Regions from separate parts of the Homo sapiens genome. Here region 1 is linked to region 2. Evidence: fine-mapped expression QTL. A gene starts in region 2. The other region holds a variant in brackets. All regions are shown on one strand. Distances are between the middles of the regions. Region 1 has its middle 34 kb from the start of DDX59. Region 2 holds the start of DDX59 (DEAD-box helicase 59).

Region 1 (5,385 bases), 33 kb before region 2:
AGAAAAAAATATATTGTTGTTCCCATTTTTAAAACAGAGAAAGTGGAACATAGCATTTTCAGAAATCTGGGCCACAGATCATTGGTAAAACAGTAAGCCTGTAGTTTTGATTCCCAGTTCATTAGGAAGTTAATGTAAGGGTGGCCAGGCGCAGTGGCTCATGCCTGTAATCCCAGCACTTTGGGAGGCCGAGGCGGGTGGATCACGAGTCAGGGGTTCAAGACCAGCCTGATCAACATGGTGAAACGCTGTCTGTACTAAAAATATAAAAATTAGCCGGGCGTGGTGGTGGGCGCCTGTAATCCCAGCTACTCAGGAGGCTGAGGCAGGAGAATTGCTTGAACCTGTGAAGCGAAGTTTGCAGTGAGCTGAGATCACACCACTGCACTCCAACCTGGGCGACACAGCGAGACTCCATCTCAAAAAAAAAAAAAAAAAAAGAAAAAGGAAGTTAACATAAGGGCAATAAGTATTAGGGAGAGGTCCCCAGGAAGAAGGTGAGAAGGACTGCAGAAAAGAAAGAACTGAATTATCAGCAACATAAACACCAGCAACAAATATTTACCTAGAATCGACTGCATGCTAAGTCTGGGGATATAATGAGACAAATAATAAGAAGAATAACCCTGCTGTCAAGGAATTTGTAGTGACATGTAGGGTATAAACATTAAAATAAATGGTGACATAAATGAGAAAGACTAGATGTAGGGTGACCACATTTTTCAACTGAAAATTAGGTTTTGTGATCTGAGGGTGCTTACAGAGACAGAATATTTTATTTCATTGCCAATCAGCAATATGGAACTCAGAGGAAGGAGTGATTCTTAAGAATCTGGGCTGGCTTGTTAGACAATCTTGTCTGATGCCATGGGCAACTCTAGCTAGGCCCCCACCCTATGAGGGGAGAGTTAAGCCACTAGTCTCTACTTTTATCTTGTATAACACAATTTCCTGAAGACATTTTCTCCCCAAAATGCTCCTGTATTTCACTGTGGCAGCAAGACATCCAGCTTCCAGATGGAAAAATGAGATGCCAGTCTCCTCTCCTGTAGATAGCGCCGATCTCTAAAGTAGATCATTTGGATCCCTTCCAAGTGGAACTGCTTCTTTTGACTTGCTGGTGGGAGAGGAAGCATGTTAATAAGGCATTCTAATTATACGAATTCTCTTACTACCAAGAAGCTCATTAATAAATCTCCCCTTTTCTTACCAACTTGGAGATGGGTAATAGTAGTGATTATTAAAGATCAGGAGCCCAGTGTGGTGGCTCATGCCTGTAAGCCCAAACATTTGGGAGGCCAAGGTGGGAGGATCACTTGAAGTTGGGAGTTCAAAACCAACCTGGGCAACAAAGCAAGACCAGTCTCTGCAAAATGAATAAATAAAGAAACAAAAATTAGCCAGGCATGGTGGTGCGTGCCTGTAGTCCCAGCTACTTGGGAGGCTGAGGTGGGATGATCCACTGAGTCCAGAAGGTTGAGGCTGCAGTGAGCCGTGATGTGGCCACTGCACTCCAGCCTGGGTGACAAAGCGAGACCATGTCTCAAAAAACAAAAAACAAAGATCGGTTTGGTCACCTTTTAGTAAGTCTTGCATGAATGTATCTAACATCTCTCTTTTGAACACAGGGGCATTTGTCACCTGTCATCCACAGCTTTGAGGCTGGTGCTGAAATTTTCAGACAAGAAAATCTCTTTCCACATCCAATGACATGGGCAATGGGAGTCTGAGGAAGGGGAAGACATAAGGAAAGGGAATACACTTAAATTTTTCTGTTTTACAATTTGCCTAAGGCCCTGGTGGTCTTCCTACAGGCCTCAGCAAACTGTCTTAAATGATGAGTTTGGCTCTGCCTGGTGCTGTGGCTGCCTGAGTTAATACAGGTAGTGCCCACAGGCCTGAATAGTCGCTGCTGTGTGTTACAGGCAGCATCATATTCCCATCCACACTGAGTCAGTCTCTTTCTTGCTTTGCATTAGGGAGCATTGCTTTGCTTTATTTTTTCAGTCGCTATCTAATATTCTTTCAAGATGAACTTAAATACATATTTGTGCACCTAAATTTGAGTATTATTTTCTTTCTGTGTTATGTTTTTTGAGATGGAGTTTTGCTCTTGTTGCCCCAGGCTGGAGTGCAATGGTGCAATCTCGGCTCACTGCAACCTCCGCCTCCCAGGTTCAAGGGATTCTCCTACCTCCGGAGTAGCTGAGGTTACAGGCATGTGCCACCATGCTTGGCTAATTTTTGTATTATTAGTAGAAACGGGGTTTCACCATGTTGCCCAGGCTGGTCTTGAACTCCTGACCTCAGGTGATCCACCTGCCTCGACCTCCCAAAGTGCTGGGATTACAGACTTGAGCCACCATGCCCAGCCTAAAGTAATTTTTTAAGCCAATATGTGACTGTATACTGTCTCCAAAATGGACATTTAGCATATTCCTCTGATATGTGCACTCCATGCAGATTGTGGTAAACATTTGACGTATTGAAGGGAAAAACTTGGGCTTGGCTTAAAAAAATTCTCCATTTGATTTTTTGAACATTACAGCAGTAACCCATGCTTGCAATAACAAGTAAAATTACATGGTACAAACATATATAAAAGATGAAGCTAATGATCTCTTCTTCTATTTATGTGGTATAATTTGCATAATAAGACACAGGGTCTGACTGTATTTTTTTT[C/TC]CAGATGGATAGACAGTCCACCTATAGCTACATGTCTTCAATAACAGATGGCATTTATTTCTCTCATTTTTCATGCCCTTTGAAATATTTTAAAAGTTCAGGCCAGGCACGGTGGCTCATGCCTGTAATTCCAGCACTTTGGGAAAGTCCCGCTGAGGTGGAAGGATGGCTTGAGCTCAGGAGTTTGAGACCAGCCTGGGCAACAAGAGTGAGACCTTGTCTCAAAAAAATAAATAAAAATAAAAACTTAGAAGCTATCTATTTCTAATTGAAATTGTAATGAGATAATCATAGATTAACATGCAGTTATAAGTAAAAATACAGAGAGATGCCTTGTACCCTTTGCCCAATTTCCCCAGTGGTAACATTATGGAAAACTACAGGACGATATCAGAACCAGGATATTGACATTGTACAATCCACCAATTTTATTCAGGCTTTCCCAGTTTTCCTTACTTGTATTGATTTTTGTGTATGCCTGTGTGTGTGTGTGTGTGTATATTTAGTTCTGTATAATATTATTCCATGTGTATCCACCATCATAGTCGAGATACTGAAGTTTCACCACCCCAGTAATTTTTCATGTTGCTCGTTTATGACACCAACCTCCCTACCCCTGTCCTTAACCCCTGGCAACTGCTAAACTGTTCTTTATTTCTTAATTTTTTTCATTTCAGAAATGTCATATAAATGGACTTATATAGTACGTATCCTTTTGGGTTTGGCTTTTCTTCCCTCAGCATAATTCCCTGACGACTAATCCAAATTATTGTATCTATCAATAGTTTGTTCATTTTTATTACTGAGTATTAGTCCATAGTGTGTATACACCACAACTTTAAACATTTTTAAATTGACAAATAAAAAGTATATATTTGTATGTATAATATGATATTTTGAAATATCTATACATTGTGTAATGACTAAATTGAGCTACTTAACATATGTATTATCTCACAGACACATTTTTGGGGGGCAAGAACACTTAAAATCTATGCAGCAATTTTCAAGTATACAATATATATTATTAACTATAGTCACCGTGTTGTACAGTCTCTTGAAACCTTATCCCTCCTGTCTAAATGAACTTCTGTATATTTTGACCAACATCTCCCCAATCTCCCCCACCCCTTTAGCCCTGGAAACGACCATTCTACTCTCCACTTCAATGAGTTCAACTTTGTTAGATTCCACATGTAAGTGAGATCCTGTGGTATCCGTCTTTCTGTATCTGGCTCATTTCACTTAACCTAATGTCCTTCAGATTCATCTATGTTGTTGCAAATGACAGGATTTCCAACGTTTTGATGGGTGAACAGTATTCCACTCTGTGTATATACCACATTTTCTTTATCCATTCATCTATCAGTAAACACTTAGGTTGATCTTGGCTACTGTGAATAATGCTACAATGAACATATACCACAGTCTGTTTAATCATTCACCTGCTGAAAGACATGTGGGCTGCTTCCAGTTTTGGGGCCACTAGGAATAAAAATGCTATAAATATTTATGTGTAGGTTTTTGTGTTAATATAAATGTTCATGTCTCTGGGATAGATGCCCAAGAATGCAATGGCCGGGTGGTATGGTAAATTGCTTGTTTAGTTTTATAAGAAACTACCAAACTGTTTTCCAGAGTGGTTGTACCCTTTTACGTTCCCACCAGCAAAATATGAGTGGTCCAATTTCTCCATATCCTTGCCAGCATTTGGTGTTTTCACTATTTTACTATAATTCAATACTACTTTATTTTGTTGCTCGAATTGTTCCAGCTTTGATTAAATTTTATTTTATTTTATTTTATATTCATTTTATTTAATTTATTAAATTTTATTTGACCGGTTTGTAGTTAAATCCCATCGTGGTTTTAGCTTGCATTTCCCGATGGCTAATGATGTTGAGCATGTTTTCATGTGCTTAGTTGCTATACAGAGCCTCTTCAGTGAAATGTTCGTTCATGTCTTTGCACATTTTCTAACTGAGTTGCTTGGGTGTTTTACTGTTGTGTTCAAAAGGATCTTTATATATTCTAGATGCTAATCTTTTGTCGGATCTGTGATTTGAAAATATTTTCTCCCAATCTGTAGTTTATCTTTTCATCCTCTTCACATGGGCTTTGGCAGAGCAAAAGTTTTAAATTTTGATGAGGTCCAATTGATTAATTCTTCCTTTCATGATTCATGCTTTTGGTGTCAAGTATAAGAACTTTGTCTAGCCCTAAATTCCCTAGATTTTCTCCTACTTTTTTACAAAAAGGTTTATAGTTTTAAATTTTATGTTTAAGTCTGAAATCCATTTTGATGTAATTTTTGTATAAAGTGCAAGCTATTTTTATGAAGTATTCTCTTCAAAGTTCTTTAGATAGTTTATAATAGGGGTTATATTAAAAATGTTTAACAACCAGTGTTTTGTGCAGGAACCTACCAGTTGAATGGATGTTAGCCATTAACTCCAGTATACCTGTATTAGTGCACTTTGATGAATATCCACTCCCAGTTATAATTTCAGTTTTTATTCCCTCTTTAGACCAAAGATAAGCTAGCATGTGTTGATATGTTTCGTTATTTCCAAGTGGTTAATGTAATCCTACTTCATGGGTTGTTGTGAGAATTAAATAAATTGTTACATGTAAAGTGCTTAGGCACCTGCCATACAGAATGAACTAAAAAAAAAATGCTAGCAAATATATTGCTACATGTT
Region 2 (5,385 bases):
AAAATATAAAAAATTAGCTGGGCGTGGTGGCGGGCGCCTGTACTCCCAGCTACGCAGGAGGCTGAGGCAGGAGAATGGTGTGAACCCGGGAGGCGGAGCTTGCAGTGAGCCGAGATCGCCCCACTGCACTCCAGCCTGGGCGACAGAGAGAGACTCCGTCTCAAAAAAAAAAAAAAAAAAAAACAGAGAAAAAAAAACACTTCATAAAGAAAATGAAAAGATCTTGGACTGAATCCTGGATTAGGGGAAAAAAATAGCTCTAAAACACCTTAATGGAACAACTAGTAAATTTTCAATAAGGACTGCATGTTAGCTACTCGTACTTCATCAATGTTAAACTACCTAAATTTGAGCCAGGCCCAGTGGCTCATACCTGTAATCCCAGCACTTTCGGAGGCCAAGGCAGGTGGATAGCTTGAGCCTAGCAGTTGGAGACCCCCGTGGGCAACATGGCAAAACCCCATCTCTAACAACAAAAAAATTCTCTCTAACAGGTGGGGTGTGCCTGTAGTCCTAGCTACTCTTACTTCATCAATGTTAAACTACCTAAATTTGAGCCAGGCCCAGTGGCTCATACCTGTAATCCCAGCACTTTCGGAGGCCAAGGCAAGTGGATAGCTTGAGCCTAGCAGTTGGAGACCACCGTGGGCAACATGGCAAAACCCCATCTCTAACAACAAAAAAATTCTCTCTAACAGGTGGGGTGTGCCTGTAGTCCTAGCTACTCGGGATGCTGAGGTGGGAGCCTCACTTGAGCCCGGGAGGTGGTTGCAATGAGCCGAGATCGCACCACTGCACTCCAGCCTGGGTAACAGAGTGAGACCTTGTCTCAAAAAACAAACAACCTCAACTGGAACATTTTTCTGTGAGTATAAAAGAGAATATCATTGTCTTTGGAGACACATGCTACAACTTACTCCTAAATGGTTCAGAAAAAAATATATATCTATAGTATACATATTTTATATATATAATCTCTCCTACACACTAATATAGCAAATATAGCAAACTGTGAACTTATGTGAAGGGTATACAGGAGTTCATTAATTCTGAAACTTTTTGATAAGGTTGATTTTTTCAAAATAAGTCAAAAAATTTTTTTATTTGAAAACACACTATAAACAGGGAGAAGATATCTGCAACACCTACAATTAACAAAAGAATGTTTCATTATATATACATATATACATTATATATACATTTATATATGTACACACACACACATCCTTAGAAGAGGAAGAGAAAACATGAATGAATAACATATTTCAAAGTGCTCAGCCTTATCAGTAATTACGGAATGCAAATTAAGACAAAAACATGGTATTTATTCTGGGTAGACTAGCAAAAAGTAAGAAGTGTGAAAATAACGAGGATTTAGAGAGAATTGTGGTCGGTACTGGTGGCAGTATAGATTGGTACAACCACTTTGAAAACATTTCTGCTTTATCTTTGAAAGCTGAACAGCCCCCATAGCCTCTGATGCCGCAGTGCTAATCCTAGGTTCAAATTAGAGTCCAGCGCATGCACAGAAGGTGAACAAGAATGCTCCTACTAGCCTTATTAGTAATTACTAGGGGCAGATTCAGGTTTTATGGGGTATGAGCTTATATAATTGGAAAAGAGGAGGCTTTTAAAGAAAAAGATTCAGAATGATGAATACAAATTAGGTTCAAAAGTGACTAATTTTTATAATGGCAAAAGAAATTACAACAATTAGAAATGTCACAAAACCCAGGAAAAGAGTTCTGTTATAGGTATGTGACCTACGAACTTGGGAAGTCTGATACATTTAGTCTGTGTGGTTCCCATCAATAAAGAAAATACTTAAAGTGCATTTATAATCCTATCCGCTACAGTATTGAATACATTCCTGACAGGAGAAAACTTCCTTTTGACTAGGCAGTAAGAAATAAATGTTCTGTTACTACACGTAACAACTTGGATGAACCAAAAAAACAAATGTTGAGTGATAAAAAGCGAATTCCAGGCTATATGTATTTTTATAAAGCTCAAAAAGAAGAAAAATACACCAATACACAGGAATGCATCCAAATATGATAAAACCACTAAAAATGGCAAAGAGGGACAAAACTGAAGATAGTGGTGGTGAGCTAAGAGGCCAGGAGTAGAATCCTGGAGATGCATAGATACATGCTAAATACTGATAACGTGGTGGAGTGATAGTTTCATTAGCATACTTTAAATTTTACATATTTGGTAAATATGCTCTTTTGAATGCATCGACTATTACACTGAAAATATTTTTAAATACTTAAGGCACCTGAATATAAGCTGGCTTCCCTCCTTCCTCTCCCGTGCTGTCTCCTCTCCCCCATCACTTCTCAACTACAAGCTGCTTGGGACACGTGGCTCCAGAGGTTGGCAAAACAGGGAAATGTCAGCCCACAAGGAACAAGAACCGTGACTTGTGTTATTTTCTTGTTGGTGTTGGGGTGGGGGGAGGGGTGCGGTGGTGCAGGAAATATTATCCAGCTTATCATATATGCCACATCAAGCTGACTCCGTTTAAATTTTGAGTGGCTCTACTAGCTAAAGCCAGAAAAGGGTTTTTGGGCCCAACGGGCAGAAGTGCCCCTCCCTTTTACACTCACACTTCCCACTTTCTAAGGGTGCCAGGCCCCCGCGCCGCCCTCCTGCTTCTTTCCGGACGGTCCAACTCTTTTCCACCAGTCCCAGCCCATTCGATTACGTAAATTCTTCCAAGAGGATTCCCAAACGTGCCCCTCCGTCCAGAACTCGCCCAGCCCGGACCAGTTCCGAGATTTACCACCAGCCCAGAGCTGGGCGGGGGCGTGGAAAACGCGAGGAGCCTTCCCGCCCCTCTCCTTCTCCCTCCCTCCCTCCCAAGCCACTGCCGGCTCCCAGCCGAGCTCCGCCCCCGCGGTGGCCCCGCCTCCCCGCCGCCCGGAAAGCGGGCTGCGGCCCCCTCCCAAAACCCGGGGAAGTGGATTCTACTCTACGCTCCGCTCCGCTCCGCTCCGCACCACCAACCCCGGGCCGCAGTCCTGACGAGCGGGTCAGGGCTTGTCGGGCGGAAGCCTGGCCTGGAGCCTGGAAGGGGGAGACGGCCCGAGCGGGAGCGGGAGCGGACGCGGCCTCAGTCCTGCGCGGGTGAGCGTGCCCCGGAAGCTTGGGCCCCTGGCCGCCCTGGTGCCCCTTCTCCGGGACCTGGGGCGCTAGGCCGCGGCGGCAGAACTGGTGCCCCTGCGCGGCCTTCCTCCCATCCTTACAGTTCCCCGTGTCCCAGGCCTCTACCCGGAACCGGAGCCCCGCCCGTCTCCTAGCAGCTCCGTGACGTGAAGCGCCTCGGGGTGCGGTGCCGCCGGGCGTGGGTGGGAGGCAACGCCCGAGGGGAGGGCCCGCCAGTGCACGGGGGTGCGGGGCGCGTTGGCGAGAATTGGAGGCCGCGCCGCCGCCAGCCGTCCGCCGTCCCGCCCAGCAGGAGCACGTTCCCTTTCGCCATTGGAAGACTGAGTTCCAAGCTTTTTCCTGCTCACCTAGAGCCGTCCCTGCCCCGCCCGCCACCCCCTGTACATTTTCGGAGATTTAGGATAGTAATTCTAGACCCTCGGTTGCATTTCTGTTGGAATTTTTCTGGAAGTTGGAATCTGGCAGTTTAAACAAAGAATTTTTTTAAGAAAAATATTTATTAGTATATTTGATAGTCCCCAGATTAGGTTAAAAGCCTTATTCCCAATAACTGTAATTTTGCAAAGACATGTTTTTGGTGTAAAAAGGTATAGATATGGGTTGATGAAAAGAATCAAACTCTGAAAAATATTTGAAGAGATTTATTTTGAGCCAGATTCAAGTGACCATGGCCAGTGACAGTCCTCAGGAGGTCCTGAGAACATGTGCCCAAGGAAATTGGGGTACAGCTTGGTTTTATCTATTTTAGGAAGGCGTGAGACATCAAATACATTTAAGAAATACATTGGTTTAGTTTAGAAAGGCGGGGCAACTCAATCGGTAAATGTAAACGTTATCTGGTTGAGGTTATCTAAAGACCTGGGATCCATAAAAAGGAATGTTCAGGCTAGAGATAAAGGATTGTGGAGACCAAGTTTTATTGTGCAGAGGAAGCTCTTAGATAGACTTTAGAGAGAGCAGGTTGTAAATTGTTTTATATTGGACTTAAAAGGGTGCCTGGCTCTTAGTTGATTATCTCCTGGATCTGGGAAGGAAGGAGGGAAAACAAGGGGAGATGGGAATTCTCACCAAATGCAGATTTTTCCTGCAAGAGACTTTGCAGGGGAGTTTTAAGGTACGACAAGGAAATATATTTTGGGGTAAAACATTTTTATTTTCTTCCTTGTTAGGCCAGAGTCAGATTGGAAAGTAAGTCACGATATACAGGGTTAAATAAAACCCATCTGATGAGAATTTATGGTTTGTAGGGCATGACTCTCCAGACCCCTTAGAAAGGAATTTGGGTAAGATAAAAAATTAGAGCTTAGTCCTCGTATGGTTGAGAGCTTGTGCTCTGGATCCACAGTGCCAGGGTTGTAACACTTAAGAATTGTGTGAGCTTGGACAAACCACTTAATTTCTTTTCTTTTTTTTTTTTTTTGAGACGGAGTCTTGCTCTGTTGCCCAGGCTGGAGTGCAGTGGCGCGATCTGGGCTCACTGCAAGCTCCGCTTCCCGGGTTCACGCCATTCTCCTGCCTCAGCCTCCCGAGTAGCTGGGACTACAGGCGCCTGCCGCCAACGCCCGGCTAATTTTTTTTGTTTTGTTTTGTTTTAATAGAGACGGGGTTTCACCGTGTTAGCCAGGATGGTCTTGATCTCCTGACCTCGTGATCCGCCCGCCTCGGCCTCCCAAAGTGCTAGGATTACAGGCGTGAGCCACTGCGCCCAGCCCAAACCACTTAATTTCTAAGTGGCTCAGTTTCTTCTGAGTGTATATAATGTGTTTTATACACACACACACGTTTTTTCATTATGCTATGTTATGTATATTACTATATTATTTTTTCATTATGCTATACTATGTATATTAGTCTTGTGTATATTACTCTATGTAATATACCTAGTATAGCATAATGAAAAAATATCTGTATATATATATATTAGGCAATGCTAACTGCTTTACATGGTTGTGAAGATTAGGTGAAGCACTGTGCTTGGCATATAATAAACACTAAGTGTTACTTATGAAAATAGCATTTTCTCTATGATTTGTGGCTTTGATTTTAAAGATTCTAATTGTGAAGTATTTCTCCTGTTTTCTTTTTTGATGCTATAATAGAAGGATTTACCCCAGAATTTCTATAATATCTGATACTTCAAAGTGCAAATAATCAGTAAACGGAAATAGACCATGTGTACAAGGCTATGTTGAGCAGTGTGCAGTGTTACAACAC

The links.
Region 1: its variant is fine-mapped to the expression of DDX59 in vagina (GTEx, PIP 0.97).

The regions. Positions count from the first base shown.
Region 1 is chr1:200,700,875-200,706,259 of GRCh38, reverse strand. No RefSeq gene overlaps it. Among named protein-coding and RNA genes, the nearest start is that of DDX59, 34 kb to the right of the region's middle. The variant C/TC (reference allele first, on the strand shown) is at 2,684.
Region 2 is chr1:200,667,514-200,672,898 of GRCh38, reverse strand. It overlaps DDX59 (DEAD-box helicase 59), which reads left to right and starts at 2,992. Exons shown (of 8, transcript NM_001031725.6): 1 at 2,992-3,132. DDX59-AS1 (DDX59 antisense RNA 1) reads right to left here and starts at 3,392. Exons shown (of 3, transcript NR_110787.1): 1 at 3,277-3,392. RefSeq lists a silencer at 2,839-3,578.